Regions from separate parts of the Homo sapiens genome. Here region 2 is linked to region 1. A link means that fine-mapping ties the variant in region 1 to the expression of a gene that starts in the linked region. Tissue or cell type: whole blood. Region 1 holds a variant in brackets; the other region holds the start of a gene. All regions are shown on one strand. Distances are between the middles of the regions.

The links. PIP is the estimated chance that this variant, and not a neighbour inherited with it, causes the effect.
Region 2: it holds the start of ABHD13, and the variant in region 1 is fine-mapped to the expression of ABHD13 in whole blood (TOPMed, PIP 0.96).

The regions. Positions count from the first base shown.
Region 1 is chr13:108,254,660-108,270,846 of GRCh38, forward strand. TNFSF13B (TNF superfamily member 13b) reads left to right here and starts at 15,059. Exons shown (of 6, transcript NM_006573.5): 1 at 15,059-15,575; 2 at 15,681-15,765. The coding sequence starts at 15,237. RefSeq lists enhancers at 15,095-15,524, 15,476-15,984 and a silencer at 15,885-15,964. The variant C/T (reference allele first, on the strand shown) is at 6,753.
Region 2 is chr13:108,214,425-108,230,611 of GRCh38, forward strand. ABHD13 (abhydrolase domain containing 13) reads left to right here and starts at 3,968. Exons shown (of 2, transcript NM_032859.3): 1 at 3,968-4,235; 2 at 14,775-16,187. The coding sequence starts at 14,795. The coding sequence ends at 15,808. LIG4 (DNA ligase 4) reads right to left here and starts at 1,112. Exons shown (of 3, transcript NM_206937.2): 1 at 1,060-1,112; 2 at 114-186. RefSeq lists enhancers at 1,037-1,331, 3,641-3,970 and silencers at 1,175-1,314, 4,251-4,490.

The DNA of each region.
Region 1 (16,187 bases):
TTTATAGTCCTTTGGGTATATACCCAGTACTGGGATGGCTGGGTCAAATGATATTTCTAGTTCTAGATCCCTGAGGAATCGCCACACTGACTTCCACAATGGTTGAACTAGTTTACAGTCCCACCAACAGTGTAAGTGTTCCTATTTCTCCACATCCTTTCCAGCACCTGTTGTTTCCTGACTTTTTAATGATCACCATTCTAACTGGTGTGAGATGGTATCTCATTGTGGTTTTGATTTGCATTTCTCTGATGGCCAGTGATGATGAGCATTTTTTCATGTGTTTTTTGGCTGCATAAATGTCTTCTTTTGGGAAGTGTCTGTTCATATCCTTTGCCCACTTTTTGATGGGGTTGTTTGTTTTTTTCTTGTAAATTTGTTTGAGTTCATTGTAGATTCTGGATGTTAGCCCTTTGTCAGATGAGTAGGTTGTGAAAATTTTCTCCCATTTTGTAGGTTGCCTGTTCACTCTGATGGTAGTTTCTTTTGCTGTGCAGAAGCTCTTTAGCTTAATTAGATCCCATTTGTCCATTTTGGCTTTTGTTGCCATTGCTTTTGTGTTTTAGACGTGAAGTCCTTGCCCATGCCTGTGTCCTGAATGGTAATGCCTAGGTTTTCTTCTAGGGTTTTTATGGTTTTAGATCTAAAATGTAAGTCTTTAATCCATCTTGAATTAATTTTTGTATAAGGTGTAAGGAAGGGATCCAGTTTCAGCTTTCTACATATGGCTAGCCAGTTTTCCCAGCACCATTTATTAAATAGGGAATCCTTTCCCCATTGCTTGTTTTTGTCAGGTTTGTCAAAGATCAGATGGTTGTAGATATGCGGTGTTATTTCTGAGGGCTTTGTTCTGTTCCATTGATCTATATCTCTGTTTTGGTACCAGTACCATGCTGTTTTGGTTACTGTAGCCTTGTAGTATAGTTTGAAGTCAGTAGCGTGATGCCTCCGGCTTTGTTGTTTTGGCTTAGGATTGACTTGGCGATGCGAGCTCTTTTTTGGTTCCGTATGAACTTTAAAGTAGTTTTTTTCCAATTCTGTGAAGAAAGTCATTGGTAGCTTGATGGGGATGGCATTGAATCTATAAATTATCTTGGGCAGTATGGCCATTTTCACGATATTGATTCTTCCTACCCATGAGCATGGAATGTTCTTCCATTTCTTTGTATCCTCTTTTATTTCATTGAGCAGTGGTTTGTAGTTCTCCTTGAAGAGGTCCTTCACATCCCTTTTAAGTTGGATTCCTAGGTATTTTATTCTCTTTGAAGCAATTGTGAATGGGAGTTCACTCATGATTTGGCTCTCTGTTTGTCTGTTATTGGTGTATAAGAATGCTTGTGATTTTTGTACATTGATTTTGTATCCTGAGACTTTGCTGAAGTTGCTTATCAGCTTAAGGAAATTAAAAACACATGAAAAAATGCTCATCATCACTGGCCATCAGAGAAATGCAAATCAAAACCACAATGAGATACCATCTCACACCAGTTAGAATGGCAATCATTAAAAAGTCAGGAGACAACAGGTGCTGGAGAGGATGTGGAGAAATAGGAACACTTTTACACTGTTGGTGGGACTGTAAACTAGTTCAACCATTGTGGAAGTCAGTGTGGCGATTCCTCAGGGATCTAGAACTAGAAATACCATTTGACCCAGCCATCCCATTACTGGGTATATACCCAAAGGATTATAAATCATGCTGCTATAAAGACACATGCACACATATGTTTATTGTGGCACTACTCACAATAGCAAAGACTTGGAACCAACCCAAATGTCCAACAATGATAGACTGGATTAAGAAAATGTGGCACATATACACCATGGAATACTATGCAGCTATAAAAAATGATGAGTTCATGTCCTTTGTAGGGACATGGATGAAATTGGAAATCGTCATTCTCAGTAAACTATCGCAAGAACAAAAAACCAAACACCGCATATTCTCACTCATAGGTGGGAATTGAACAATGAGAACACATGGACACAGGAAGGGCAACATCACGCTCCAGGGACTGTTGTGGGGTTGGGGGATGGGGGAGGGATAGCATTAGGAGATATACGTAATGCTAAATGACGAGTTAATGGGTGCAGCACACCAACATGGCACATGTATACATATGTAACAAAGCTGCACATTGTGCACATATATGCTAAAACTTAAAGTATAATAATAATAAAGTTAAAAAAAAAGAAAAGATTACATCTTTTCACAAAGAATACAGAGATAAAACCAAAGAGTCAAATGACTAAATGTAGTTGAACAACTGAACCAGAACACATTTTTTTCTGAGTGCTAGTCCGGGATTCTGTGTCACACACTGCTGTCCTCTTAAGCCTTCAACAACACACAGATCCTCTTTGAGGTGCAAAATTCATGACCTGCAGAAGTTTACAAAATGTAATAGGTTCCCTTGTTTGGGACACAGTGAGAATTATAAATTCACAAGTCATTGATATTAAAGAGAAATTGCAGAGTGACTTTTAAAATAATGAAGATGGTAAATTGTATAATATATGTGTATTTTACCACATTTTTTAAAGTCAAAAAAATGCTTTTGATAAAGGATTGAAGATTAGTATTCTGAAATGCTGAATTTTCAGTAGTCACTAGTAGAGTACAGTTTATACTTATTTGATTTGACTTGTTATCCTTGGTTAATTGTTGCTAGTGTTGGTGGTTGATAGTGATAAGATTTTCACATGAATTTTACACTGCGCCACTTGTCCTGAGTGTGGAAATATCAACATTGGTCTGGATTGTGTTTAAATTTTGAAATTGTTGAAAGCTCATTATTCAATTTAAAGTATGTAAACAGCTGTTGCCATGAGATAACAGATTATGCTTTTGGTTAAAATTCTGGGAATCACCCACCAGTTTTTGTTTACTTTTTAATAACCAGAGGCTTATATTTAAAATAGACAAAAAATTAGCAAGTGCATTTTAAATTTAGTAAATTTAGAAGTAACCAACGACAAGTACAATTATGAACTCATACTGTCTCCACTACTAGACATGTTTTATGACTGTCTGAAAGTATCTAAAACAGATTTTATGAGTTTTCATATAAAATTATATTTCTGTTTTAGCAATCAGTCATGGTAATCAAACAATTTGAGGACAAGAGTCTTTATATTTGAGTAGCAGAAAAACACAAGGGAAATCTTTGATCCCTGATAGATCATTAAACAAAATAGAATTTAATTTTACTTAACATCATGTGTACACACACACACACACACACACACACACACTTTTTCTATTGTTTTTTTTTCACCATGGATACCGTGGATAAATTCTCAGTAGTGAGACTGTTGAGTTGAAGTGTAGATATGTTTTTAATATTTCTAGTATCATTAGATTGGCTTCCAAAACAACCTTATTATTTTACATTTTCAAACAAACCACCATGGCACGTGTATACCTATGTAACAAAACTGCACGCTCTGCACATATAAACCAGAACTTGAAGTGTATATATATATATATATATATACACACACACAAACACACACATACACATATATGTGTATATATATACATATATATGTGTATATATACACATTATATATAATGTGTATATATACACATATATATATGTGTATACGTATACACATATATATGTGTATATATACACATACCATAAAGCTGAAACCACTAAAAAATTATAGCATTGAAGACAAAGCTATAATATAAACACAATGATGTCCAAAAGAATTAATTCTCATCCAAAAGAATTTAAAAAGGGATAAGCCAAAACAATCCAGGTAATGAAATTAAATAAAGATAGCTAACACTGATGATTAATTATATATTGTTAGTTAAAACGTGAGCAAAAGTCATTCTTTATATAGACATATGTATATATAAAGAATGACTTTTGTATATGTATATGTATATATGTATATGTATATATGTATATGTATATGTATATGTATATATGTATATATGTATACATATATATGTATATGTATATGTATATGTATATGTATATGTATACGTATACGTATATATGTATATATGTATATATACATATATATGTATATATAAAGAATGTATATATAAAGAATGTATATATAAGAATGTATATATAAAGAATGACTTTTGTATATGTATATGTATATATAAAGAATGACTTTTGCTCACGTTTTAACTAACAATATATAATTAATCATCAGTGTTAGCTATCTTTATTTAATTTCATTACCTGGATTATTTTGGCTTATTCCTTTTTAAATTCTTTTGGATGAGAATTAATTCTTTTGGACATCATTGTGTTTATATTATAGCTTTGTTTTCAATGCTATAATTTTTTAGTGAGTACTGCTCTGGCTCATATGTTTGGTATAAGTTGTTTTCCCTTTTGTGATTTTCTAGGTAATTTCTAACCTCAGTTTCGCATACTTCTTTGACACAAACTTGACCTATGAATGTATTTTTACATTTTCAAGTAAGCAACTCTTTGATCACCTTTTTGTAATGATTTCTATTTTTATGAGATTATAATCAATGAATGGGATATATCACTTAGGTATTACTAAGTAATAAACCACCCTACTTTAGTGCCCTGTAACAGCTCCCCTTTATTATTTTTGTAATTCTGTGAGTTTTTCAGGTGGCTCTTGTGCCAGCTCCACCTGAGTTCATGTGTGTGGCCGCATGCCTCTGACAGCCAGGCTGGCTGGGGGTTCAAGATAGCCTCACCCACACATTTGGCAGTAAGTGCTGGCAGGTGGTTCAGGCACTTTAGTGGTTTTCAATGTATCTTCTCATCCTCCAGTAAGCTAGACTGACTTTCTTGCATGCGGGTCTCAGGGAGGCAGTCCTGTGTGTTCTACTGGTCAAAGCAAGCAATTCACAAGGTCAGTTCAGATTTAGGGGATAAGGAGACAGACCAACCTTATTATCAGTCACATTGCAAACAGGCATGCCACCAGAGAGTAGTTCTTCCAGTCTTTGCAAACTATCCGTCATGGTAGCCTGTAAAAGACTACTTTTTAAAGTTGTCCATTTTGATTAAAATTTTAAGTATCACTTGTGCATTTGGGGAAAAAGTTATCTTTTTGATAGACATAATTTATTATCTCCCTCTCATTTTTTAATATCTTTGCACTAAGTGTTATAATGTTAAATAATATAGCATCAATAACCATAAAGCTGAAACCACAAGAAAAACACCTGGAAATACACAGGAAAAAACATTAGATATGGGAAATTTTACTCATCTCTATTATTCTATGACATCATATAAACAAAAATGCAGATATTGTAGACTAAAATAATAAAATTATTAAGGATATCCCTTCTTTTCAAGTAGCTATGTTACATTCACACAAATGACAATACTATTAATCCCTAAAGAAACTCTGATTAAGCTTTATAAGTAGAAATTGTGAGAGAAAATTATCTGAATGCAATACGATAAAATAGAAGTTAGTGAGAAAAATGAAGAAAATTTCTGGAAATTAAAACAAATTAACAAATATCTCTTAAATAACTTTTAAGTCAAATTGGAAAGCCAAACAAAATTTTTAGATTAATTTATATTATTAATCGTTTCTAGAAAATAATAAGCACAATATATAAAAAACACAATAATAATAAAACACAATACATACCTGATATCATTGAATTTTACTAAGCAATGCTCTTGGGAAATTTAATAGCCTATCAACAAATAAGAAAAGAAATGAATGTTTGAACACTCAACTGAAGAAGTCAGACTAAAGAAAACAACAAAACAAACAAGTAGAATGAGACAATTCATAATGATAATAAACAGAACTATCTGCTGATTACTTATTTGACACTAACAAAACAGACAAGTTTTTGCTATTCTTTCAAGAATAAAAGGAGAAATTGTATGCAGACAATTTTTAAAAAAAATGCTTAACCACAGATACAAAAGAAATGGAAAATCAGATGAGAAACTGTTTTGTATAAATTTATCAAGTAAAAATTGAAATCATTTAAAATGATCTTATACAATAGAATTTAACTCCATGACACAGGAGTTTTCTTTTTTCTTTCTGACTTTTTTTCTCTCTGTTTTAATTTTTGTATGCCTAGTACCTAGAACAATACTGAAAGAGTGGATGGTGAATATCCTTCCTTTGCAATTGGTTTAGCTACTTTGTTATTTCATTTTTTTTTTGTATTCAAGAGAAATGCATGTATACTCCAATTTCCCCTTAATTTTACACACAAATTTATTCATAATATCCTCTTACCTGTTTAGGATCTGTAATAGCTCTAAAATGTCCCGCTTTTAAAATTTCTGTTATTGAAATTTCATACTTTCTCCTTTGTACTGTGTCTTACTACAAATTATTAATTTTATTTGTTATGTCAAATAACCAATTTTTAATTCTCTTTATTGTAAAGTTATTATTTATTTCATTAATCTCTTTTATATTTTTTACTCCAATCTTTAAGCTTAATTTGTTTTCACCTTTTAACTTGTTAGGGCTTTGTGACCTGTATGCTCAGATTATTTCTTTCCATTCTTCTTTTTAAAACATGCCATCAAAGATATGATTTTTCTCATAAAAATAGCTTTAAATGCATTTTACAAGATTTTATATACTTTATTTTCATCATATCCCAACAACTCTTTCTATATTCAGTAATACCATCAGACCTTACCTGGGTCGATTTTTCTCAGCATCCTTTCCTTCCTTCCTCCCGTCCTCCCTTCCTTTCTTTCTTTTCTTTCTCGGAGTCTCCCTCTGTAGCCCAGGCTGGAGTGCAG[C/T]GGCGCGATCTCTGTTCACTGCAAGCTCCGCCTCCCGCGTTCACACCATTCTCCTGCCTCAGCCTCCTGAGTAGCTGGGACTACAGGCGCCCGCCACCACGCCCGGCTAATTTTTTGTATTTTTTTAAATAGAGACGGGGTTTCACCATGTTAGCCAGGATGGTCTCGATCTCCTGACCTCGTGATCCGCCCAACTCGGCCTCCCAAAGTGCTGGGATTACAGGCGTGAGCCACCGCGCCCGACCTACTTGCTTATTTTTCTTTTCCAAAAAGCTACCCATACAGATTTTCTCAGCATTTTAACCTAGGACTTGATAAGCTAATTCAAACTGTAGTTTCAGCTCTTTCATAGATTAAGAAGCATTATTCTTTTCTCCTGTAAGTTTTTATGTCATTGCCTCTATTTAGTCTATATCCTCTCCCTCCTTTTATGTTCCCATTTTTCTTGCATGTGAGTTGCAAAACACTCTTGAGTTTTGAGATTTTACTTCTATTTGAGCCTGCAGGCCAGTAACTCAGTGCTCAAAAGTGACCATCCTTTTCTTCAATGCATGTATTAAATTATTTAATTGAAAACTATAGAGATATTTTTTAGTTCCTAAAAAGTTTCTTCAGTTGAATCTTAAGTCCTCTATTAGTTTTTAAAATTCAAGTTGTCTCCATCCCTTTGTGTTGTGTGTATGCTGGGATGTTCTGTGCTCTCCTTCTTTGATGGTTTATCTCTCCCTCTCTCTCTCTTTTTTTTAATTTTCATTGGAAGACGTTTATTTAGTCAGCATTTAACAGAGAATAGCAGAATCCATGAAGGACAAGTGTTCCAGGCACTAGAGATACAATAGGCTAGAAACCACACATTTCTGCACTCATGGAGCTGAACACTCTTAGTTTATCATTTCTTTCTGTACATATCTTCCCTACTTCCACCCTACCCTCTGCCATAATCTTTTTAAAATATATATATAAATGGCTTCATTTTCACATTTCACACAACCACAGCTGTGCATGCAAAAACACTGCAGTCTAGCCACTATTTATACGTCCAGCCACTTCTTGCATCTCTCCCGATATCCCAATTTCAAGCTTTCTCTCTTCAACACCTCCTGTGTTTGATTTGATGGCTCAGCTGGGGCAGTCTAGCCTCAGGAGGTGGGAAATCAAGTCCTGTCTAACCCTATGAGCCAGGATTGGACTAACAGGGAAACTTCTAGTCTACTCTGAGGCATTTGGGGGAGGCTTTTGTTTCTTGTGATCCCCTGATAGTCTCTCAGCTTTAGGGGCAGGGAGGACTAACCCCAAGCACTTACTCCCTTTGTGGGTACTCAGAGGCCCGGGAAACTTGGCATATTCCTGTGAGGCTGATGTTAGCCACTGCCTGGGGCCCACAGATTTCTGCTCAACCATTCTATCTAAGACCCATTGAGACTTGGGTCTCACATATAGTACTGCAAATACTCTCGAGAAATAAACCTCAAACATTATTTTTCTCTATCTAGGGCCAATTAGAGCAAAAAGCCCCTCGCTAACACCCAATTACCTCTAAGTTCTACTGCAATTTGGCTCAGAGAAGAAAGATAATTTACAGTTGTTAGTAAAGGAGAAGAAAGATGCATTCATGTTGCAGTTTTCTCAGAATACACTATATCTCTCTTACTTTTTCTTAGTTTGAAATTATTCCCTTCTTACACGGAGATGCACAAATTCTAATTTTGCATTTTTTTTTCTGAAAGAGTTGACTACGTTTTTTTGGTTCCACATAGAAAAGACAGATTCATTAAACACATCTTCACATAATAATAATTTTTCTTAAGATTCCTAACATATTAAAGAGCTTAAATTATTAAAAAATAGCTATATTAAAACTGGATGTAAGACTCTTTTTTTTTTTTTTTTTGAGATGGAGTCTTGCTCTGTCGCCCAGGCTGCAGTGCAGTGGCACAATCTCGGCTCACTGCAAGCTCCACCTCCCGGGTTCACGCCATTCTCCTGCCTCAGCCTCCCAAGTAGCTGGGACTACAGGCGCCCGCCACCGCGCCTGGCTAATTTTTTGTATTTTTAGTAGAGACGGGGTTCACCGTGGTCTCGATCTCCTGACCTCGTGATCCACCCGCCTCGGTCTCCCAAAGTGCTGGGATTACAGGCATGAGCCACCGCGCCCGGTCAAGACTCTTCTTAACAAATGAATTAGTTTTTCTAGCTTGTGGGTGTTGACCTTTTCTCTTTACACCGTAGTTTCAAAAAGTGGACATTTGGAAAATTTCTGAAAGAACATTTAAAACTCTCTTATACAAAGTTCTTTGGTTGTAAGAATACAATTCTTACAACTAGCAGAATTAGTATGTCTTTGGATCCTAATCAACTGCTAATCTAACTAGCAGATTTAGGATGTCTTTGGATGAATTAACACCTAATCTTGTCTCACATTGGCGTAAACAGTTAGGAAATAGTATGATCCAAATAACAAGCATGAAGAGTTGAGTAATCCAGCAGGACAATTATGTCCTTACAGAGCCAGGTTCCCTCCAGAATCCTGTTCTTGCCGTCACTGTTTCAGTCTGGGCCTGACGGCAGTTGCAGGATGGCAGTTCTCGGTGATCACAGACAGGCTTGTAATGTCTAGTGGAAGAAGAGCATCTCTTTCTTGTCAATCTCTTTAAGAATGAGGAACTCTTTCTTAGCAGTGCCCCCAGGAGACCACCTCACAACCAACTGTAAAAAGCCTCTCTCATTTGTCCCTCCTTAGCAATCAGTGGTGATGTAGATGGAGTCATCGTGAGTAGATTTCATGATTAGGACTTCCCTAAAGTGTGAGATTATGTCGGCATCCCACAGAGATAGATATCTAAACAAAGTCAGCGTCTAGATTTGGGGCAAGAAAGATTCTGTTAAGATGGCGAAGCAGAATTGGGCATACAGATGCTTCTGGCTTCAGAGCCTACACTCCTAAACCCATCCTCTTCTCAACATTCAATAAGCGAAATTTCAAATAAATCATTAAAATATTTGCAGTCCATTTAATTTTAATTTATTTGTTTTATTGATACAAAACAGATGCACATATTTTCAGAGTATATGTGATAATTTGATACATCATATAATATGAAAAGAACAATTCAGAGTAACTGGGAAGTTAATCACCTTCAATATTTATCCTTTTGTTTTGTGGGAACATTAAAATGATTCTCTTCTAGCTATTTTGAAATGTAGAACAGATTAATGCTAACTCTAGTTGCCCTACTAATCTATCAAGCATTAGGTTTTATTTTTTCTAACATAAATCAACCTCTCTTCATCCCTCCACCCTTCTTCCTACTCTTCCTGGCCTCTGGTAACCACCTATCTACTCTCTATATTCATAAGACCTACCTTTTTAGCTCCCACATATGAATGAGAACATGTGATATTTGTCTTTTTATGCTTGGCTTATTTCATTTAGCATTAGTGACCTCTAGCTGGTGAGAATGTGGAGAAAGGGAACGCTGGTGCACTGTTAGTGAGAATGTCAATGAGTACAGCCACTATGGAAAACAGTATGGAGGTTCCTCAAAAAACTGAAAACAGAACTACCATACTTAAGCAATTCTATCACTAGGTCTATATCCAAAAGAAAGCAATCAATGTATCCAAGAAATGGATCCAAGAAATGGATTCATTCATCCAATCAATGAATCATGTTGATTCAGCACTATTCACAATAGCCAAAATATGGACTCAACCTAAGTGCCCATCAATAGATGAATGAATTTTAAAAATGTGGTATAATACAGTGGCCTACTATTCAGCCATAAAAAGTAAAATCCTGTCATTTGTAGCCACCTGGATGAGCCTGGACGACATTATATTAAGTGAAATAAGCTAGGCACAGAGAGACAAATACTGTGTAATCTCACTTATATATGCAATCTTACAAAGTTGATTTTATTGAAGTAGAGAGTAGGAGAGTGGTTACCGGAGGTATTGGGGTGGAGGTTTGTCACCTGGTACAAAGTCAGGGTTAGATAGGAAGAACGATTTCCAGTGTTCCATTGTACAGTAGGGCGGCTATAGTTAACAATAATATATTATATATTTCAATAGAGCTAGAAGACAGGATTTTCAAAGTTCTCACCAGATAGAAATGATAAATGTCTAAGGTGATGGATATGCTAATTTTCCTAATTTGATCATTACACATTGTATACATATATCAAAACATGACACTGTATCTCATAAATATATATGTGTCAATTAAAAATTTTTTAAATTAAAAATTATATACAGTGATTAACATTTAGCCTTTCAAATCAAATTTAACTATATAATAACTTAACACACATACTCTCTCTCTCTCCATTATATATAATATATATATAAAATATATAATATATAAATATTTTATATATATATAATATTTCTACTGGAAAACAGCATATTTTCCTGAAATGCAATACTTAACCTATATCATAAATCTTCCATATTCTGAGTGCTTTAGGATACCAATTTTATCTAGATGTAATTTTAGGTACATTTACAGATCGAGTACATTCACAGATCTAGAAGAGCTGTTGTCGCCATGCTTGACTGGTCTAAATCCTTTTCCTCAAAGGATTTTGAGGAAAACACGCTTTTCCTCAAAGAAAAAGGGCAAAGGAGAGATTCCTCAAACCTGTAATTCTTTATAGCACTATTTAGCCAGAAATTTATAATTCATTTTTAAAAATATTTTTGAGGTTGTCAATGTAAGAACATAGTCAGAGAGTGAATGTTTATTTTCTGCTGTTTCTGACTCCCGGACAAACTCACAAGTTATATTCTTTTGAATCCTATCTGCCTATTTCTGAGTGGATAGAACAGTTTCGTCAGTCACAAAGTCCTAGTATCTCAGTTTGTTTATTGAATGACAGAAGAATGCTTTACACTTACATTGAGAAAAAGATGTGTGTAAAAAGCAGCTAAATACTGTCAATAAACACTGAATGTATAATAAGATCGCTGCACAATCTGTGGCTCAGATACAGTGGCCTTTTGTCCCTGAATAAACTTGTGATGTGGTGTATTATTCAATGAACGTGAACATGCTTCTTGTTTAACAGAATTTCTGTTAAATTATTGCCAAACCATTTCCTCTTCCGGAAACAGATTCTTGATTTATGGAGTAATGACTTCCTTTTGTTCATCTAATAAGAGATTCAAGAGTCATGAATGTCACTTCGTTTTCTACCTGTCTTTAGAGAAAATGCAGCTGTCAGATCCCTGTGGAGGATGTGCACATTGCCATCCCTGCTTGCTGTCCCTCTAGCCAGAGGGACATGATGGCTGCCCTTTGTGGAAGAAGAACTTGCCCATTTTATGCATGGCACGGCTCACTGCCGCAACAAACATCGGCACTGGTTTAAAAATGGCTGCGTGCAGGCTGGCCAGTGACTCTCTTTTGAGATGTTCAGGCATGAAAGTCTCTGCCCAACACAGTGACGAAGGCAGAGGGAATTCCCTAAAGCAGTCAAATCATTCCCTGTCTTCAGAATTTTCTCTGAGGGATATAGAGGGGAACGACTCACCAGAAGAGGGAGAATGTCCATGGATGGAGAGAAGCAGTGGCTACAGGAAACCCTGAGTGAAACGCAGAGAGAAATTGCTTTCTAGCACTGCGTTGCATCCTTTCATTTCTGCATGTATTTAAATCATAAGAATACACAAACACATCATCTAAAGGATCTCAATGACTTTCAGTAAGAAGGCCTTCATACAATTCCCATACGAATTCCATTTTTTATGGCAAGGTTACTCCGTATGACTCACCCTAATTGTTCTGGAACAAGAACTGACAGAAAAGAATTGGACTGTCATTCCTGATGCAAAAGGGTTTACAAACATCCTTCTAAAAGAAGACTTCCACCTGAGAAGGTTGATGGAGGACCTCTTGTCTACGTACCTGTTAGACTGGGGCACGGTCACCTTATTGTGGGAGTTATAGGTAAGAAAAATTAGAGAGCAGCTTATTTTGGGGGCCAGGATAATAACAAGTTATTTTTAAAAGGTCTTGGAAACTTGCAGATGCAAAGGGAAAAAAACAAAAAACAAAAAACAATCCTAATGGTAAAAACAAGTAAGTCTGACTGCGTCATTTTGTAGTAAGACAATGAGGAAATGGGAACTCGTCAGAGGGTAACTGGGTGGTGCCTGTAAAAGTGAAGATGTGCTTCTCCCTCAGCAGGCATTTGCTGGGAAACCCTTGCAGACGTTACAAGCACAGTTGTAGAAAATATCTATTAGAGCACTGTTTGTAACTGAAAAATGTTTCATTCATACTTTGAATGTAAAGAATAAAAGTGAATGAAAAAATGGAAGCATTGCACCGTGCTTTTGATTTACATTTCCCTGATCATTTAGTACAACCACCATGGAAAACAGTGTGGAGATTCCTTAAAGAACTAAAAGTAGAACTACCATTTGATCCAGCAATCCCACTACTGGGTATCTACCCAGAGGAAAAGAAGTTGTTATACGAAAAACATACTTGCACACACATGTTTATGGCAGCACAATTCACAACTGCAAAAATATAGAACCAGCCCAAATGCCCGTCAATCAATGAGTGGATAAAGAAACTATGATACATATATATGATGGAATACTACTCACCCATAAAAAGGAATGAATTAATGATGTTCGCATCAGCCTGGATGGGATTGGAGACAATTATTCTAAGTGAAGTAACTCAGGAATGGAAAACCAAACATTGTATGTTCTAACTCACAGTGGGAGCTAAATTACAAAGATGCAAAGACATAGGAATGATCTAATGGACTTTAGGGACTCAGGGGAAAGGGTGGGAGGGGGGTGAGGAATAAAAGACTAAAAAATGGGTTCAATGTGTACACTGCTCGGGTGATGGGTGCACCAAAATCTCACAAATCACCACTAAATAACTTAACCATGTAATCAAATACCACCTATTCCCCAAAAACCTGTGGAAATAATTTTTTTTTAAATGGAAGCATCCAAAATGTAATTTGTTTCCACATTCTTGTAAGCCTCATTATGTATCCCAGGGACAGTTAATATCGTCATACGAATTCACAGGTGAGGAAATGGAATCACAGAGAGATTATGTACTTTGCATAAGGAGAGCGAGGGTGAGGCAGGATTTGCAGTCTAGAAGCCTGGGTCTGGAGTTCTCCACTTTGCACTATATCATTTCTGTAAACTTCTTACTTAAGACTGTGTGGAAATGTAGAGTGAGACAGAACTAAAGCTCACTATTCTTAGTCCACAGGGGAGTAGTGACTACCCAGGGCTTGGTAAGTGCTCAGTAACGTTTGTTGAAAGATGAATCAATATTTCAATGCTGGGGCAAAGCAGTGAAAAACTGGGGAATGTCCAGGAACCAGCCATCAGGATAAGGCAGGACTAGAATGAATGCAACAGTCCTCACAGGTCCACCAAGTCAACAACAGAAAAATCCAAAGCTAAGGTGGCTCTTGTGTGATCAAGGACCTCTTGTACACCGACCTGTTAGGCTGTGGCACAGTCAACATGGGAGTTGTAGACAAGCTACTTGAGAGTGGTTAATGGTAGCAGTCAGGCATTTGGAGCTGGAGGCAAGGCTGATTCTCCTCAACTAGTATCATATTGAGCGGGGACTTAAAGCCTCAGAAGTCTGAGCAGAAAAGCTGAGACCAGGCTCCTTGGGACAGGCTGTTCATATGCATGATTGAGTTTCAGTGATGAGTCCCAGAAGGAAAAAGTTTATGCATGTTTTCCTTAAAAATATATTCACTTATATTTAGAGAATCCTTCAGATATCTAACCTAAATACGTCTGTAACATTTACTCTCATTCTTTTTATGACATTATTAGTATAATAATATGAATAATTCCCAGTGGACTTACTTCCACACTTCCTTCAAGGATTCTCCATTTTATTTCATAATTGAAGACTGTTAATAAATCACTCTCTAGCTAAGAACAATTCAATGCTAAAACACTTAGCTTATCTGACCTTCACATTAATTATTTTTATGACAGCAGCAGGAACTTTCAGCTGCTTTTCCCCCTTCCTTATGAAGCCATGTGGTCCCAAGCAGACAGAGTTCCCTTGCTACACTTAAGGGTGGGCTTCTCAGACCTGAGCATATCTTAAAAGCTTTCCCTTGACTGTGCCAATCCAAACTCCAAGTTTCCTCAGCAGATTTAAGGGGTTTTAAATCTACTTGAGCATGAGTGTTATGAGAAGACTTTGAAATTCTTACAAAAACTGAAAGTGAAATGAGGAAGACAGATTGAGCAATCCAATCGGAGGGTAAATGCCAGCAAACCTACTGTACAGTAGGGGTAGAGATGCAGAAAGGCAGAAAGGAGAAAATTCAGGATAACTCTCCTGAGGGGTGAGCCAAGCCCTGCCATGTAGTGCACGCAGGACATCAACAAACACAGATAACAGGAAATGATCCATTCCCTGTGGTCACTTATTCTAAAGGCCCCAACCTTCAAAGTTCAAGTAGTGATATGGATGACTCCACAGAAAGGGAGCAGTCACGCCTTACTTCTTGCCTTAAGAAAAGAGAAGAAATGAAACTGAAGGAGTGTGTTTCCATCCTCCCACGGAAGGAAAGCCCCTCTGTCCGATCCTCCAAAGACGGAAAGCTGCTGGCTGCAACCTTGCTGCTGGCACTGCTGTCTTGCTGCCTCACGGTGGTGTCTTTCTACCAGGTGGCCGCCCTGCAAGGGGACCTGGCCAGCCTCCGGGCAGAGCTGCAGGGCCACCACGCGGAGAAGCTGCCAGCAGGAGCAGGAGCCCCCAAGGCCGGCCTGGAGGAAGCTCCAGCTGTCACCGCGGGACTGAAAGTGAGTTTGCAGCAGCTGCAAGACGCAGGCAAGATCCTGCCTACACTGCTGCCTCTCCCTCGCCTCAGCTGTCTTTCTAATAACTTGAAGTTTTTCTGTTCATAGATCTTTGAACCACCAGCTCCAGGAGAAGGCAACTCCAGTCAGAACAGCAGAAATAAGCGTGCCGTTCAGGGTCCAGAAGAAACAGGTATGTTTTGGGCACAGACACTTTTAGGAGTCAGGGATTAGAGAATAACATCCAGTCTGGGGGAGCTGGAGGTGAGTATCCCCTCTATGAACCTATTAAATAGAGACTATGAAATTTGCCATCCAAAGCAGACATTGCTTTAGAGCAAAGCCCCAGCGCTGGCAAATGTAACAGGCTGCATGGGTGTGCTTTTTCCTCCAATGAGCAGATCGTGTGACTGGAAGCATTTCTCTGTGCGTGTGTAAGTATTTATCTGTGCATTAAGCATAGAGGAGATAAAAGGGCCATATGTGTTTCCTCAGGTAGATAATGCCCTCCCATGTGAGAAGCATTATTCATCACTCCAGAAAAATAAAAAAAAGCATTACATGTTAGAATTAGACTTTGCTTACTACCTGGGTCATAGAAAGTTAAAGACATCT
Region 2 (16,187 bases), 40 kb before region 1:
TCCAATGCCCCCTGTACCCTCTCGGAAAATGGAAAATCCCTAAGGAGTCTACATCATTCCTCTGCCCGTTCCCCCTACTCTCCCCCAACCCTTCACGGATTCCCAGTGAATACCTGGCCTCGGGCAAGCTCCGTTACCTCTGTGAACCAGAGAATCCCAGCTGTAAAATGAGATCTTGATGGTTTCCTGCGGGGTTGCCATGAGAAAGAATCAACATGTACGCAGGTAAAGCAGGCAATACAGTTCCAGGGAGTCAAAAACGGGAGAAATCGTCCCACGACCTGGGGCTTGGGTCTAGATGAAGAGCACAGCATCAGGAGGCCAGGCTTCTAATGCGGCGCAGTCTACAGCGCTGTGGACTCGGCAACTCCCATCACCTGCCGCTGCACAAACACCCTGCTTGCTGCCCCCATAGACCGACCCCCGCCTGACGCCTCCCAGACCCCCCCACCTGACGCCCCTCAGGCCCCCCGCCTGACGTCCCAGACACCCCCACGACCGGATCCCCCAGACCCCCAATCTGACGCCCCACTTCCCCTACTTGACTCCCCACACATCCCCCGCCTGACGACCCCCCGACCCCCGCCTGACGTCCCAGACACCACCCATCTGATCCCCCAGACCCCCAATCTGACGCCCCACACCCCCCACTTGACTCTCCACACACCCCACACCTGCCACCCCACGTAAACCCCGCCTGACACCTCACAGACCCTAACCTGACGCCCCACAGACCTCCCCCGCCTCCTGCCGCCACACACACCCCAAACCCCGCCCCGAACACCCCCCACCTGCCGCCCCACAGATTCCCCCCTCTGACGCCCCACAGACCCCCAACGTGACGCCCTACAGACCCCAACCTGACGTCCCACAGATACCCCGCCTGACGCCCCACAGACCTTCCCCCGGTCTGTTGCCCCACAGACTTCTCGCCGCCTGCTGGACCACACCTTCCACTTGACTCCCCCCACACCGTCAATCTGCCACCCCCCACCCCCCCCACCCCAACCCCCCCCAACCTCCCAACCGCCCCCACCTGCCACCCCACACCCTTCCCACCTGACGTCAAGCCTGAAGCTCAGCCGCTAAGCCGGAAGCTGGCGCCAGAAGATGCCGGTTCCGCCAGCTGCTCGCCGCGCAGGCGCAGGGGAGACCCGGGGCCTTGCAGTCACCGGGCTCAAGCACGCCGGCGCAGCCAGGCTCGCGATGGGAGGTGGGGGGGCCGGCAGCCCCGTGGGGCTGCGGAGGCGGGACCTGCAGGATCCTGGTTAGGGTCTTGAGTACACACGGCTCCTATTGGCCTCGGCAGCAGATGCTCTCTGCAAGCAGTTGATCCACACGCCAGTGGATTTTGTCTCGAGGGAGACCTAAGATCACTTTGTGCTCTGGCTAGTGATAGCCTCTAATTCTTGTTCTCTGTACGTAAAACAGTGGTAACTATACTGATTTCGCTGGTTGTGAAAACTCCCAAGAGAGAACAGGACATCCTCCCAACTCAAAACGTTGGTTGTTTCATTTAAACTTTTAAAAAATAGGCTTTTGCAAACTATATAGAGCTGTTTTTTTTTTTAAATGATGTTTGCTACTGTGGTCTCAGTTCTCTTAATACAGAAATAATACATAACAATACATAACTTACAATATAGAAATAAACCGTTGCATGACCAGAAATCAACTATGGACTCTTCTAGTATCTGTTTAAGGTTTAAAAATAAAGTTATTTAACAAACCTTTATTGAGCACCTATTATTATATAGTAATGGTGCTAGATATTCAGGGTGGAGAGATTATAAACAACCCCAGTTTTTGTGTTCCAGGAGCTGTTGGTTTCCACCGAATTTTTGCTGTGGTCAGTCCTCTTTCGCCATGGAGAAGTGAGAAGTTATTCATAAAGAGGGGTGGAAACAACTTTTAGAACTATTTTATTTTAGCATAAAATATTGCTTTACAATAAAATAAATTTTGCTGCAGTGGGCCCTGATAAAACATATTAGAGCTGTTAAGTGCCCTTAGAGGTTGTGTAATGTATAAAAACCTCCTTTTTCAAAACTGACACATTTCATTCAGTGCTAGTTTGTAGCGGAGGTTCCGTCTAGCCCAAGAACATTCAGTTATTTACTTCGTATGTCTAATTGACCTAATATGCCTGAATATCTAAAATCATCTGTGATGTTGTAAAGTCTCATGATATTGTTTTGTGAGTATCTGCTCTTCAATTTAGTTATCAATTTATTTTGGAGGAAAAATGAATAGTGTTAAGGTAGAGGAGCCTCCACTTGCCCATCTTAGGAGAGGGTACCTATCCGTGTACATTTGTAGCTTGTTCAACCTCTACTGAGCTCCTACAATGTCAGAAGCTGGACTTTGTATTAGTTACATGAGAAGAACCATGAATTATGAAACCAGGCAAACTCCAAATTGATTCAAAGCCCAGTCTCCATTTCATCATGTTATTTTAGTTGATTGGTTCAAAGACAATCAAGGGTTTTTTTCACTAAGTATCTTCTAGAGTTGCCATGATTATTAATTTATTTATGTAAATGGTCTACTTTATATATGCTTGGCACTTATTCCGTGATCAAGATTAGGAAGCTATGATTCAAGAACCCAGCTTTGACCTGGAGCTCTCCATCTGGTAGCAAGACACATATGTTCAATAACAACAACACCACAGGCCGGGCCAGTGGCTAATGCCTGTAATCCCAGCACTTTAAGAGGCTGAGGTGAGCGGATCACTTGAGGTCAGGAGTTTGACACCAGCCTGGCCAACATGGTGAACCCCCGTCTCTACTAAAAAATACAAAAATTAGGCCGGGCCTGGTGGCTCACGCCTGTAATCCCAGCACTTTGGGAGGCCGAGGTGGGTGGATCACCAGAGGTGGGGAGTTTGAGAGCAGCCTGGCCAACATGGTGAAATCCCGTCTCTACTGAAGAAAAATACAAAATTAGCTGGGCGTGGTGGCGCATGCCTGTAATCCCAGCTACTCCGGAGGCTGAGGCAGGAGAATCGCTTGAACCCGGGAGGCGGGAGGTTGCGGTGAGCCGAGATCTTGCCATTGCACTCCAGCCTGGGAAACAAGAGCGAAACTCCGTCTCAAAACAGCAACAAAACAAAAACAAAAAGTAGCGGGGCGTGGTGGCGGGCACCTGTAATCCCAGCTAGGTCAGAGGCTGAGGCGAGAGAATCGCTTGAACCAGGGAGGCGGAGGTTGCAGTGAGCCGAGATCACGCCATTGCACTCCAGCCTGGGCGACAAGAGCGAGGCTCCATCTCAAAAGGAAAAAAAAAAAAACCCACAGATTTATGAAATATCCTCTGTATATATAAAATAGGGGACATAGAATAAGGAAAGCCCAAGGGAGGGGAGGCACACATCTGTAAACAAGTGTGTACACTTCAGTGCACAGGGGGGTTGACAGCGAAGCTAATGAAGCCCAAGTTTTAAGGGCCCATTTTTGCGAACACTTCCAAGGCCTTGAGAGGGGCCCTAACGAGGTGTTCCCATGGTCGTGTACCTCGGTAAAATTTGCAAAAATAAGACAATTTTACATTATTTTTCTTTAAAAGGGCTCTCCAAATGGCACAAGGTTCAGGCCTCACAAAACCTGCATTCGCCCTTGACAGTCCACTCTCGTAGAGGTAAAAGGAGAAAAATAGTTATGGAAGCGCTTTAAATCGTGGACCTCATTGCGACACCCTTAACAACCCTATCAGGCAGAACAAATTGCTCCGCAAACCTGCGGCTTGCAGAGCGATGGTGGACTCCCGAGCTCATCGGGTCCGGCACCTCTTCACCACGGAGGCCTCGGGTACGGAACTGGAGGGAGTCCTGGTGCTCGGAGGAGGGTGGAAGGCCAAGATCCCTAGGTCCTGGAGCAGGGAGCCGGGCCCACGCCGCCGAGGTATCTTTTCCGTCCGGGCCACCGTCGCGGGGGCTCACTGGCAGCGGCTTCTGCGCATGCTCGGAAGAGCGGGCAGGGTTCCCACTCCGGGAGCGGAGACGGAGAACAGGTTATGTGGGAGCCGGCGGGGGCATTTGCCGGCGACACCCGAGCGGGGGCCGGAAGTGGGGCCACAGCTCGCAGCAGGAGCTCCGGGCTAGACCGTGGCGCCGGCAGCGGCCCCTGGGCTGGAGGAGGATGATGAGGAGCGACGGAAGCGACGCGGGGGTACGCTGCTGCGCGGCGCCCGGTTTCGTGCCCGCGGCCGACTGCGCAGCCTGTCCGCGAGTCTGAGTAAGTGCGGCTCGGGGACCCCGAGCCCGCGGGGCCCGAGCGCCGGTCCGCTCCTTCTAGGAGGGTCGCGGGGAGCCGCCGGCTCCTCCAGGCGGGCGCGAAACCCTCCCGGGAGGCTGTGGGGGGAGCCCCGGGGCTAGTGCGGCTTCCCCTGGGGGTCGTGCGGGGGCCGAGCGCCGGGGGTTGTGGAGGACCAGCCCGGGGTGCAGCCCTGCCGGCCGCCCCGACTCCGCTCACCACTCACCAGGGGAAGCAAACTGAAGCCAAATACCTGTTTTGGAAACTAAGGTGCGCGCATTGCCAGAGGCTCGCCGGGTGTCGTTTTGTAATTGGAACCTAAAACGTATCTTAGTGTTCTATGTCAATTGTATTTCCAGTAATGTGTACAAACCTAAGATCCCTAAAATCCAACCCTCCGCTCCCCCACCCTCCCACACAGACATGAAAAGTAAAATAGAATAATTCCAGCTACTAGGTTGGAGAGAGGGAGAGCCCCGATCTAATCACGACAGTAACAGGTTTAGACCTGTGAATATCATGACAGGAAGTTCTGGGGTTATTCAGGAAACATCAAAAAAGCACCCCATACAATCGAAGTCAATTTTGCTGTAGATTTTAGTCAACATTTAAGTAAAATGAATTACTAGTATTACTACCCAAGGTATCGAAACCAAAAAAAAGTCCGTCCCCATTTAACAACTCTTATTTATGTTTACTATGTGATAGTAACTGGATAGAAAGAGATGAGTATATTGGCTTTGTGTGTTGATATTGGATTTTTCACTGATCTCTTTTGACGGGAGGGGGTTCGTGGATCAATACTTATTTGTATGCATGCTTAGGGAAATCACTCGTCTTTGACTAAAATATCAAATTTTATTTTACTGTGTAAGATTTCTTGATTGCCGATTTAGTGTTAATGTCATGATATCCTACCTAAGACATCAGCTGCTCAATTAAATAATCGTTAATAGAGGCCCACTATGCATCAGGCACTGCTGCGTACAGAAAATGTAGAGTTGAATAGGACGAGGTCTCTGTCATCGAGGAACTCACAGCCTGTGTAAGCAGGTTAATTACGCTGTAATAGTAACTTCTGCCACGTAAGTTTGCACAAACTACAGAATGTGGAATGGGTGGCAGGAGGGAATAGGGGTCCAAGGAAAGCTTTCTAGAGGATCTACTACCTGAGTTTGGTTTTAACAGAGAAAGAGTGCATTGCTCTGATTACTTCCTGTGTTCAGATACGGTACCTCTAGGGAATCATATCCATTATTTGATCTAGGACTAATAGGGCTTCTAGTTGTCCTTACTTTCACATACTCTGCTATAGTACATAATTAAGTAATTTAAATTTTGTCTCATAGAAGTAGCTGCACTTAACACACTATTACATTTTATCTCAACAGTAGTTCAATTTAATCTTTCATCCTCCTTTTACATACGAGGAAATATATATTTAGAGAGGCTAAGTGAGTTGGCAAAAGCTACCTATCTCTTAACAGACCATGACTCAAAACACTGTCTCCTTTCCATTGCACCACACTGCCTCCCACTGACAGTTAACTTGGAATGATTAAAGCAAGCCAGGTACCTACAGGTAGCCCTTGGCACACTGCCCTCTTCTTGGGCACATCAAAGACCTCTTGGCATGTGGATAAGAGGGTTTACTAACCAAATTGCCCTGGGCTAACAATATAACTTAGTGATAGGTGCAGGAAACTGTTGGATCTAACATTTTCCCATGATCTCTTCTCATAACTTATCTCAGGGGAATCTATTTCTGTTTCTCTGTTTAATGTATTACCCAGATTCTGAAATCTTTCTAATCCTTGTTTAGTTGCCCCAGGAAAGTCTTAAGACCTTTAAATAGCCTTTTTTCGTGTGGACTTAAAAGATGCTCTAGTTCTTCTAAGTAAGATATTTTTCCTCAAATGACAGATTTTGTAATACATTATTATATTTTATGTTTCTGTTTCACATGGTGTGAACTCCTACAACAGTATATTCTGCTGAAATCCCTTGCAAAGATGTAGTATTTCCAGTACAGGGACTACATGCATTTATGAGCTAGCCTGAGAATCTAGATACTTCTAGTAAGGCTTCTAGTTGTACTTACTTTCACATACTCAATGTTATATAACACTGGTTTTATACAAAACAAATATTCTAAGTTTCATCCATCTAGTTTATAGGTAAAGTTTTAGAACATTGCCCATTTATAAATTGGAAACTTTGTGAATTTCATTATCAGTCTAACATCACTACAGTTTTAGGCTAGTGGATTTGTTTTAAACATTTCAGATATTTATAATCTCAGAACAAATTGTGGTTGGCTTCCATAGTAACAATAATCTCTCATTTTACTTCTGCCAGAGTTGACTCTATTTGCCAAGATTTTCAAGCATGAAAAAGCTACTAAGTAGCTGCCTGGTATAATTTTTGAGCTATCTGCTCATACAGATTTAAATCCTAGTTAAAGATGCTGTCTGAACCATCCAGTTATTATCCAGCATCTCCATAGGCAGTTACTGTTCATTTGTCCCATAGGACTATTAATACACACTTTTTCATTATTGATGGCATGTGGGTAACCATTAGGGAAATAGATAATTCATTCTGTGGTGTCTCCAACACCTTGATAGCAGCTATTTGTGTTTCCATTTCAGCTGTGCAGCTGGCATGGTTTCTTAACTTCCCAATGCTTAACAGAAGAGGAGAGAGATTGATATAAGAATACTGAATCTGAGTTCCACATTACTTCACATGTGATTGGAAGCTGTGATTCACCCAGAGTAATTAATGAGCCCATGGGGTGTGGGGTCCTCATTCTCTGCTGGGATGTGGATGTCGGCATTGACACACGAACTCCCTTTCCACTTTTTACAGTCTTCACTTGAACCTGCACATTTTTTTTAAATGTATGAACAGTTTTTATTTTTAAACAAGCTGTTCCCAAAATTATCAATCTAGGATGGACTTAAAGATCTTTAAAGAAATAATAGTGCCTTTATGACTTAGGACTTTTTAATTGTATTTGAAATTGTTTAGCCTTTTGCCAAATTGTTTTTCGGAAATTCATTGTAATTCACTATGGGTAATGCACTTTTTTGTATTTTTAAAAGACCATTTGCTGGTGGCAGAATCCGTAACTCGATATACAATATGCAAAACAATGTACACTTTTTTTTTTTTTTGAGACATAGTCTCACTGTGTCACCCAGGTTGGAGTGCAGTGGCACGATCTCAGCTCCCTGCAACCTCGACTCCTGGGTTCAAGTGATTCTCATGCCTCAGTCTCCCTAGTAGCTGGGATTACAGGCACGCGCCACCATGCCCGGCTAATTTTTTGTAATTTTTAGTAGAGACGGTGTTTTACCATGTTGCCCGGACTAGTCTCAAACTCCTGAGCTCAGGCAATCCACCTGTCTTGGCTTCCTAAAGCGCTAGGATTACACGCATGAGCCACCATGCCTGGCCCAATGTACACTTTTTAATTAAAAATAATTAGAATAACTAGAATTTAATTTGTAGGGCAGTTCTGACCTTCATTAAAATACAATTTTTATTGTAAAATGTTATCTATGATACAATAGATTTGTCTAATTTATTCTCCTACTAACCTTACGGCAATAATTACAATGTATTTACTCCTATACTTTTGAGTTTCAGTTCTTGATATATATAAGTTTTTATTTATTTTTAGTTTTTGGAGAAAATATTACTGGGTAAAAACCTTAAATATATTTATATATGTTATAATGCAGAAAGGATTTAAAAAAATGTAATATATCTTTCTTAATTTGAAGAAGGCAAGTCTCTGGGGCATAAGGCAATACAGTTATATGGTTAAATAGTATGGAACCGTGGTTCTCAAGCTTTTTGGTCTCAGACCGTTTACATTTTAGAAATGTAAAGATCCCAAAGATTTTTTTGTATGTATGTGGATTATATAGATATTTATTGTGTTAGAAATTAAAACTGGAAGTTTATAAAGTGTATAAATTAAAATTGGAAAACTGGAAGTTTATAAAGTGTATAAATTAAAATTGGAAAACTGGAAGTTTTAATTCATTTAAAAATAGCAGTAGTAAGTTCATTACATACTCACATAAATAAAATTTTATATAAAACAATTGTAATTACAAAAAATAGAGGTGTGGGATTATATTTTTGTAATTATCTTTAATGTCTGCCTCATAGAAGACAGGCAGATTATTAGGCTCTTAAAGTGAAACATGAAGAAAGTCAGGCTCACACAAATTTGTAGTTGTAAAGGGAAGAGTATTGTAGTAGAGAATTGTGGGTACTCGTTGGTACGACTCCATCACCCAACAGGAGGCACTTCCTTAAAGGTCAGTTATATTGTGCCATCTGAAACCTACATCAGAGAAATTGTTGTCTCTTGTTACATCAAAATCTGTTGGTTTGTAGTGAATTTTTTACTCACGTTTGCTTGATTTTGTGACACCATTCATTGGTCATTTGGAATATATTGGTTTATGGAGTTATGCAGATTTTTCCAAATGGTGACATGTTTAATATTAATAGATTACCACAGTGCCATCAAAAAGGTCCCTTAAGTGTCTAGGAGCTATTGGCAACCTCATTCATTTTCTAGTAAATATCTGCCAAACCTCTAAGTCTGAACAACCATAGTTTGTCAGTTGTCTTTTTAAATAAAAATGTTGTTACCTGAACAAAGCAGCTAGTTCAGCTCACAATTCAAATGTATTTCAATACATAGCACAAAATGCTTTATGTGCACTTCCAGTGTTGTCACACATTTGTCACACAATGTGTTAAAAAGATGTGTACTTGTTAGTTGAGATAAAATAATTTTTACTGCTTCTTCTTTGACATTCTTAAGTAAAACTGGATTATTCCCTCATTTACCGTGAGCTCATGGTGATAAAGAATACAGTGACTCCAACACGTGAGGCCACTACCTTGATTCTTACAAAGGCACCAGCAATTTTACCCATCATTGCTTATGCATCATTAGTGCAAGTGTCAAACAGTGAAAAAAGTAAATGATATTTTAGTATTATTATGAGCATAATACTGATCTTGTGGACCCCATTAGAGGGTCTTGGGGACCCTCAGGTTTCTGACCACCTTTTGAGAACCACTGGCATAGAAAGATCTCAGATTTAATAGAGCCCTCAAAGTTCATCCAGTTTAACAGCTCTAAATTCCTCTATGCTATCCTTGCCAAGTATTTATTTAGATTATGCTGAATACTTGCAGTTTCTGTGAATAATCGTGCTAAATGAATAAAAATAAGTGTCACAGACAGCTGTTTGATGGAAAGTAATAGAGATTCTTAATCCTGGAGTTATGTTTTGTCCTGCTTTTAAAACATTGCATAAGTTTCCACTTGGTTTCTCTAAGTAATCAACCTTGATGAAATCCAGAGACTACTAAAATTATGTTGTGAAGGAAAGATACAGCTAAGGTTTTGATTTTCCTTTGCTATATGTAATGACAATTGTCATCTTTCTTTGATTTTTCTTTGTCTGCTCTATAATTAAATGAACTTACGTTAGGTATGTAGTTATTTATATCCATATCTGTCTCCCGAGTACCTCAAGAGTTGCTTGAACGTTACTGAGTAGATCACAAGCTACTTGAGAGCAAGGACTGTATAGTATACTAGGATGCATTGGAATCTGATGACCATCTCTTACGGAAGAGGCTGGGAAATCAACTGTAGGCCTGCTTCAGTGGTCCACGCTGGGTTTCACAGCTCCCCTGGGAGCCTGCAGTGATATTCTGAGGACTCATACCATTCGTAGTGGGCATGACTTCAATATTGATCTCTTTTTCTAAAGCATCAGTTTATAAAATAGTTATTTAAATGAAATATTTTTCCTTAAAAATGGAACCATTCGTGATCCTATATGAACACAGGAGATGATTAGTAGACATCAGAGAAGCATGGCCATCACTCATGCCCTTAGCTGACTTACCATCCAGCTAACACTGTTAGCCAGCAAGGTGGTCTGAGAGCTTTACAGTTCTAGACGGCTCTTATTTTTAGTCTCAAATTGTTTATTGTATACCCGTCATGGACTTAAATTTAGAGACAGTAAGTAGGGAGCACTAGAGGTGACTACAACCAGCCAATTAGGACCATAAATCCTCAAGATGAGCACCATATATTAAATTGCATCAGATGATCAAACTACTTATGTAGTATAGCAGGATGTCACTAATACTGCAAAACCATTCTTGTAAAAGGAAAACAATCATATCTAATTTATACAGTACATGATAATAAAGATTAGTTATGCTTTCAGTAGATTATTTTTTGAGACACACTCACTAATATCAATGTGACACCTCAAACCACTTCATTTAGAAAGCACAAAAGTTGTTTCTAAGGTTGATTTTTTTTTCATTCAAATACAAGACTGGTACAGGTTATAATAAACTGTAATACTTAAATCTTAGCTACATATCCTGGGTTTTTAAAAAATGTATTTGTTTACACATCATGCTTTTTTTGTGTATAATTAGCATAAAGTCTGCAAAACGTTGGGAAGGGAGCAGGATGTGTTTAGTTTTGGATAAGTTTGAAATATCAGTGAAGCATCAGGTACGTGAGGAACAGGTAAATTGAGATTGTAGATGAAGAGTAGACTTGTAGATTGGGAATAATTCATACACAGGTGTGATAATTGGAGCCATGAAAAGGAATGAAATCACTGAGGGAAAGAACATAGTATCCTAAATGAGTGGAGAAGACCTTGGAAAATGCCTGCTTTTCGGGGTATAGGGCAGAGAGAAACAGCAATTTGAGTGTAGAGGAGAAGCCAATAGCAGATGACACTTTGGGGGTCTGGTGTTGCAGTGTGGATTGAGAAAAATCCACTAGATTTATTTTAAAGTGAAGTTTACATTGTATGAGAGATCATTATGAGAAGTCAGTCAGCAAGTTCTCAGATAGTAAATGGTTAAGGAGTTACTGGCGGTGGTTAAAACCACAGATTGGTGGGTTTTAGAAATGTCTGACATGTAATACCAGATCTGATAACATAGCAAACAGAAAATTGAGAAATGGGACTGTCAGGTATTCATTTAAGATGTAGACATAAGGTTAAAAATACATACAATAATGATGTAAAAGAAGACTGGAAGATGAGAAGTTATTGATTATCTACATTTCTATATTCTACATGGAACAGGTCTAATTGGCTCTCCTACTCAGCAGCCCTTCTAGTTGGTATAAGTTTGAGTGTATTAAATGCATCCTTTTTCCTGATTTTTATGATGCCAAGATGTTATCAGCAAATGGATTTCACATGCAGAAGAACCCAACAAATAATACATCTCCTCTGAAGACACGTTTTATAGGTGTTTTACCACATGGGACATACTTGATTGCTTCACTCATTCTTCATGACTAGTAGCAGTGGTCTTGGGGTCAATTGGACATTGATACTCACAAGACCCAGTATACCATAGTGGACCGTACTGTGCATCAGCCTTTCTGCTTTTTTGAAAACCCAACATGTCAGTGTTAGGTATATTGTTCCAGATGATAGCTCAGGTCTAGTGGAAAATGACACAAGGGTGGGAGTGAGCACCACCCTGGCTTAGCTGCTTCATGCTCCACAGGAAACAGTGTCTTTTTGTGACAGCATGTGAGTATAGCATCCAGGACTAAGCAAATGACAAGCCAATTACAGGTCGTATTCAATTCAGAAAAGCCCCTGTTTATACTTCCCACTGGGCATGTTTAGCCCTGCTCACTGTCCTCTCAGTCCAGATGTAGCTCATCAGTAGGAGCCATTTTTACTACACTGTTGCTTAGAAACACAGCTGATATCCCACCTTTATCAGGTTTCCAGGGAAACAGTGCAGGAAGGTTAAGGAGAGGTCATTTTTTATCTGAAGAGGGAGAAAGGTTTTGTTAACCGTTTACTCACACTAATTTATTGACAAAATCAATAGAAAACATAATGCTGGCTGTAGGATCCATGCAGTCGACTTTATTAGAGGCAGTGTTTGTTTCTATTGACTGTCATAACATCTGGGTATGAAGTTGTTTTTACATCTCAGCAGATGGTGCATGGTAATTATGCTTTGCTGATACTTTCAGCAAATTCAGTAAATTAAAAATCCTTCCTGATATTGTTCACTTGTCCTGGTTCCTTTAAGATCACCTTTGAGATGGAAATATATATCATACAGACTAGGGAACAGAGATTATTAGCAAGTGGGGTTAGGTAAAAATAAGGCAATCCGTGAGTGGAGTTCTTACTCTAAACCAGCAATATAAGAATATGTTAAGGAGAAAACACACCCATACCCACGCACTCCGCCACCCCAGAGCAATTTTTATTAACCTGTTCTTAAAAATGACTTCCATTTGATATTACTCAAGATGAATGGACTTTTATTCCGACTTCCATAGTGCAACAACTGATTGTGAGATTATGATTGTTTATCACAAAACAGTTTAGTTAATGTGACTTTTCAGGAATGTTTTGTGGAAAACGGTAAGTTTATCCCTTATTATTCCTAGCCAGTAATAGACCCAAACAAATACGCCCATTTTTCTGATGTTGTTTTAAACATATATGCCCACTGCTCAGAATACTTTTTTTAAAATAAATTGAATAATTCGTATATGTAATTAGATTATTTTAAAAATGTTTTAGTCGTAAGTATATATAAAGTGCTGTACTAGATATTAGAGATGCAATAGTGAAAAAGAGATATACAATTCCTAGTCTTATAAATTTTAATTCAGTATTTGCTAAAATTAGATGTTAGAGGCTACTAAAACGAAAATAACTTTTCAAAGTTCATTAGTTGAAAATTTAACTATGTAAATTGATATAAATGTAAATATAAGATTCAAATTTTAAAATATGCCTTATTCGTGTATTTGGAGCTATTTTATCTGGTTTTATATAATTTTTTAAGTAAGAACTAATTTGAGCAGAACACAGTAAGAAAGTAGTAGAGCCAGAAATACCAGTCACAAAAGCAAATAAAGTTAACATGTCTGTAACATTTATGAATGATCTCATTATTAATCTTACTTGATACTAATGACCAGCCTCATAGGTAAGCATTTTAAAAACTCATTCTACTGAAAAGGCAATTGAGACTGGAAATAAGTGATAAATAGTTATTCAGGGAGGATGTGATACTGTAATAAAACTTGCTACCACTGGGTGGCAGTGTTGATTTCTGGGAAATCAGAAAAATGTTGGTTTATGCTCAAAAAGGTTCAGTTCATTTGAATAATAATTCAAATGTAAAAGTCTATGTTTAGTGAAATAATAGAAAAAAATCAAATTTGTTAAATCATCCAACTCATTATTTGTATAATCAATCTATAACCTCTTTATAGCAGTTTGGTCAGTGGGAAAGAAGGAAATGTAGTATTTTTAAAAGTTCAGTAAATAAGCATAAGTAGACGAATAGTACATAAGAAAATTTGTAACATATCTCAATTCTTTTGCCTTTTTAAGACAACATGTATAAACCTTTTGATAACAAAAAATTCTCTTTTAATAGTTTTTACTTTCTTTATATCAGTTAACATATTTTAGTAATCTTTTTAAGAATTGTTCTCCAGTGAGTCATTTTACTTTATTTATCTCTGTTTCTCAGAGGATTTCTGTGTATTTGTTTCACACTGAACCCTCAAGTATTTATTGCCTTATCAATACATTTTAGCAATCTATTGACCCCAGGACGTGAAACTTCATTAAAGAGTATATAAAAGATACTGCCGATCTCATGACACTAGCAATATGATATTTATTTTTAATTACATATGAAAGATAAATCATTAATAATTTTCTTAAAACTAATACAATATTAGAATCTAGTGTTTAAGCAAATTATTTAAGTTTAGTATTAAAACTTCGAGGTAGAGGGGGGATACTTTTATTCTTTCTTTCCCTAGTTGTTTTTTTTTGTTTTATTTTGTTTTGCCCAACTCCTTACCCTAGTTTCTTTAGTTTTTGCTACCGTATGTGAAAAAAATTGACAAAGTATATTAGATTGGTCTTGCTATGTTGGAATTTCTGAACTGCCTTTTCAGTACAGTTTGCCCTGGACATACGTAACCTAACAGCAGATGTACCACAATCTCTAGAATCATGCTTGTTTGCCTCCCAGCTCTTCTACATTGAGAAGCAGATGATAGCCAGTCTACTTATGCCCCTGAGCTTCTGTTTTCTCATTAAAAAAAAAAAATGACACTATCGCATCAACTTTTTTTGGGTCAAATCCGTGAGAACACGTATATGAAGAATAAGCACTTGTTAAAAATGAGTTAATTTGAAGAATATTAGTGTTTCCTAAATATGACAGTGGAGGGATATGGTAGAAAGGAAACTGTTGAGAACAGAAAGGACAAGGGAAATTATAGCAGCTACTTTTGTGGATGGACTGTACCTATTACCATATTTAACAATTACATGTGGCCTAGTACCATAGTTTATTATATTGTGGATTTTTAAAAGAATAGATAGACGTTGAATTATTGATATTCTCCCTCTCTCTCTCTAGGATACTTACAGAGAGCTACAATGGAAAAGTCCTGGATGCTGTGGAACTTTGTTGAAAGATGGCTAATAGCCTTGGCTTCATGGTCTTGGGCTCTCTGCCGTATTTCTCTTTTACCTTTAATAGTGACTTTTCATCTGTATGGAGGCATTATCTTACTTTTGTTAATATTCATATCAATAGCAGGTATTCTGTATAAATTCCAGGATGTATTGCTTTATTTTCCAGAACAGCCATCCTCTTCACGTCTTTATGTTCCCATGCCCACTGGCATTCCACATGAAAACATTTTCATCAGAACCAAAGATGGAATACGTCTGAATCTTATTTTGATACGATACACTGGAGACAATTCACCCTATTCCCCAACTATAATTTATTTTCATGGGAATGCAGGCAACATAGGTCACAGGTTGCCAAATGCATTACTTATGTTGGTTAACCTCAAAGTTAACCTTTTGCTGGTTGATTATCGAGGATATGGAAAAAGTGAAGGAGAAGCAAGTGAAGAAGGACTCTACTTAGATTCTGAAGCTGTGTTAGACTACGTGATGACTAGACCTGACCTTGATAAAACAAAAATTTTTCTTTTTGGCCGTTCCTTGGGTGGAGCAGTGGCTATTCATTTGGCTTCTGAAAATTCACATAGGATTTCAGCCATTATGGTGGAGAACACATTTTTAAGCATACCACATATGGCCAGCACTTTATTTTCATTCTTTCCGATGCGTTACCTTCCTTTATGGTGCTACAAAAATAAATTTTTGTCCTACAGAAAAATCTCTCAGTGTAGAATGCCTTCACTTTTCATCTCTGGACTCTCAGATCAATTAATTCCACCAGTAATGATGAAACAACTTTATGAACTCTCCCCATCTCGGACTAAGAGATTAGCCATTTTTCCAGATGGGACTCACAATGACACATGGCAGTGCCAAGGCTATTTCACTGCACTTGAACAGTTCATCAAAGAAGTCGTAAAGAGCCATTCTCCTGAAGAAATGGCAAAAACTTCATCTAATGTAACAATTATATAATGTTTCCCTTTTTGATTATTGCATTGTATTTTAATTTGTGCAGAATGATAAAGAATGTTCCTTTTAGAAGTGTGTTATGTCTGTACCTGTCTGAAGAGTGACATTAAACTTTGAAAGGACTTCACTGCTCCTTTACGATATTCCAAATAGTTTTTTACATTGGAAAAACTAATTCTTGGGATTCTTTCATACATTTTCATCAAAACTTTCAGTGTGATTATGTATTCATATCTTCAGTTTAATATGTCAGTATAATAGATATTGTTCAAAAGTTTCTTGTTGCTAAAGTGGTGTAATCTGTTACACAGATGAATAGCTAGATGTGGAAAGAGATATGTAAACAAGAAACCTTTGGGTATTGTTTCTTAAGTAAATATTG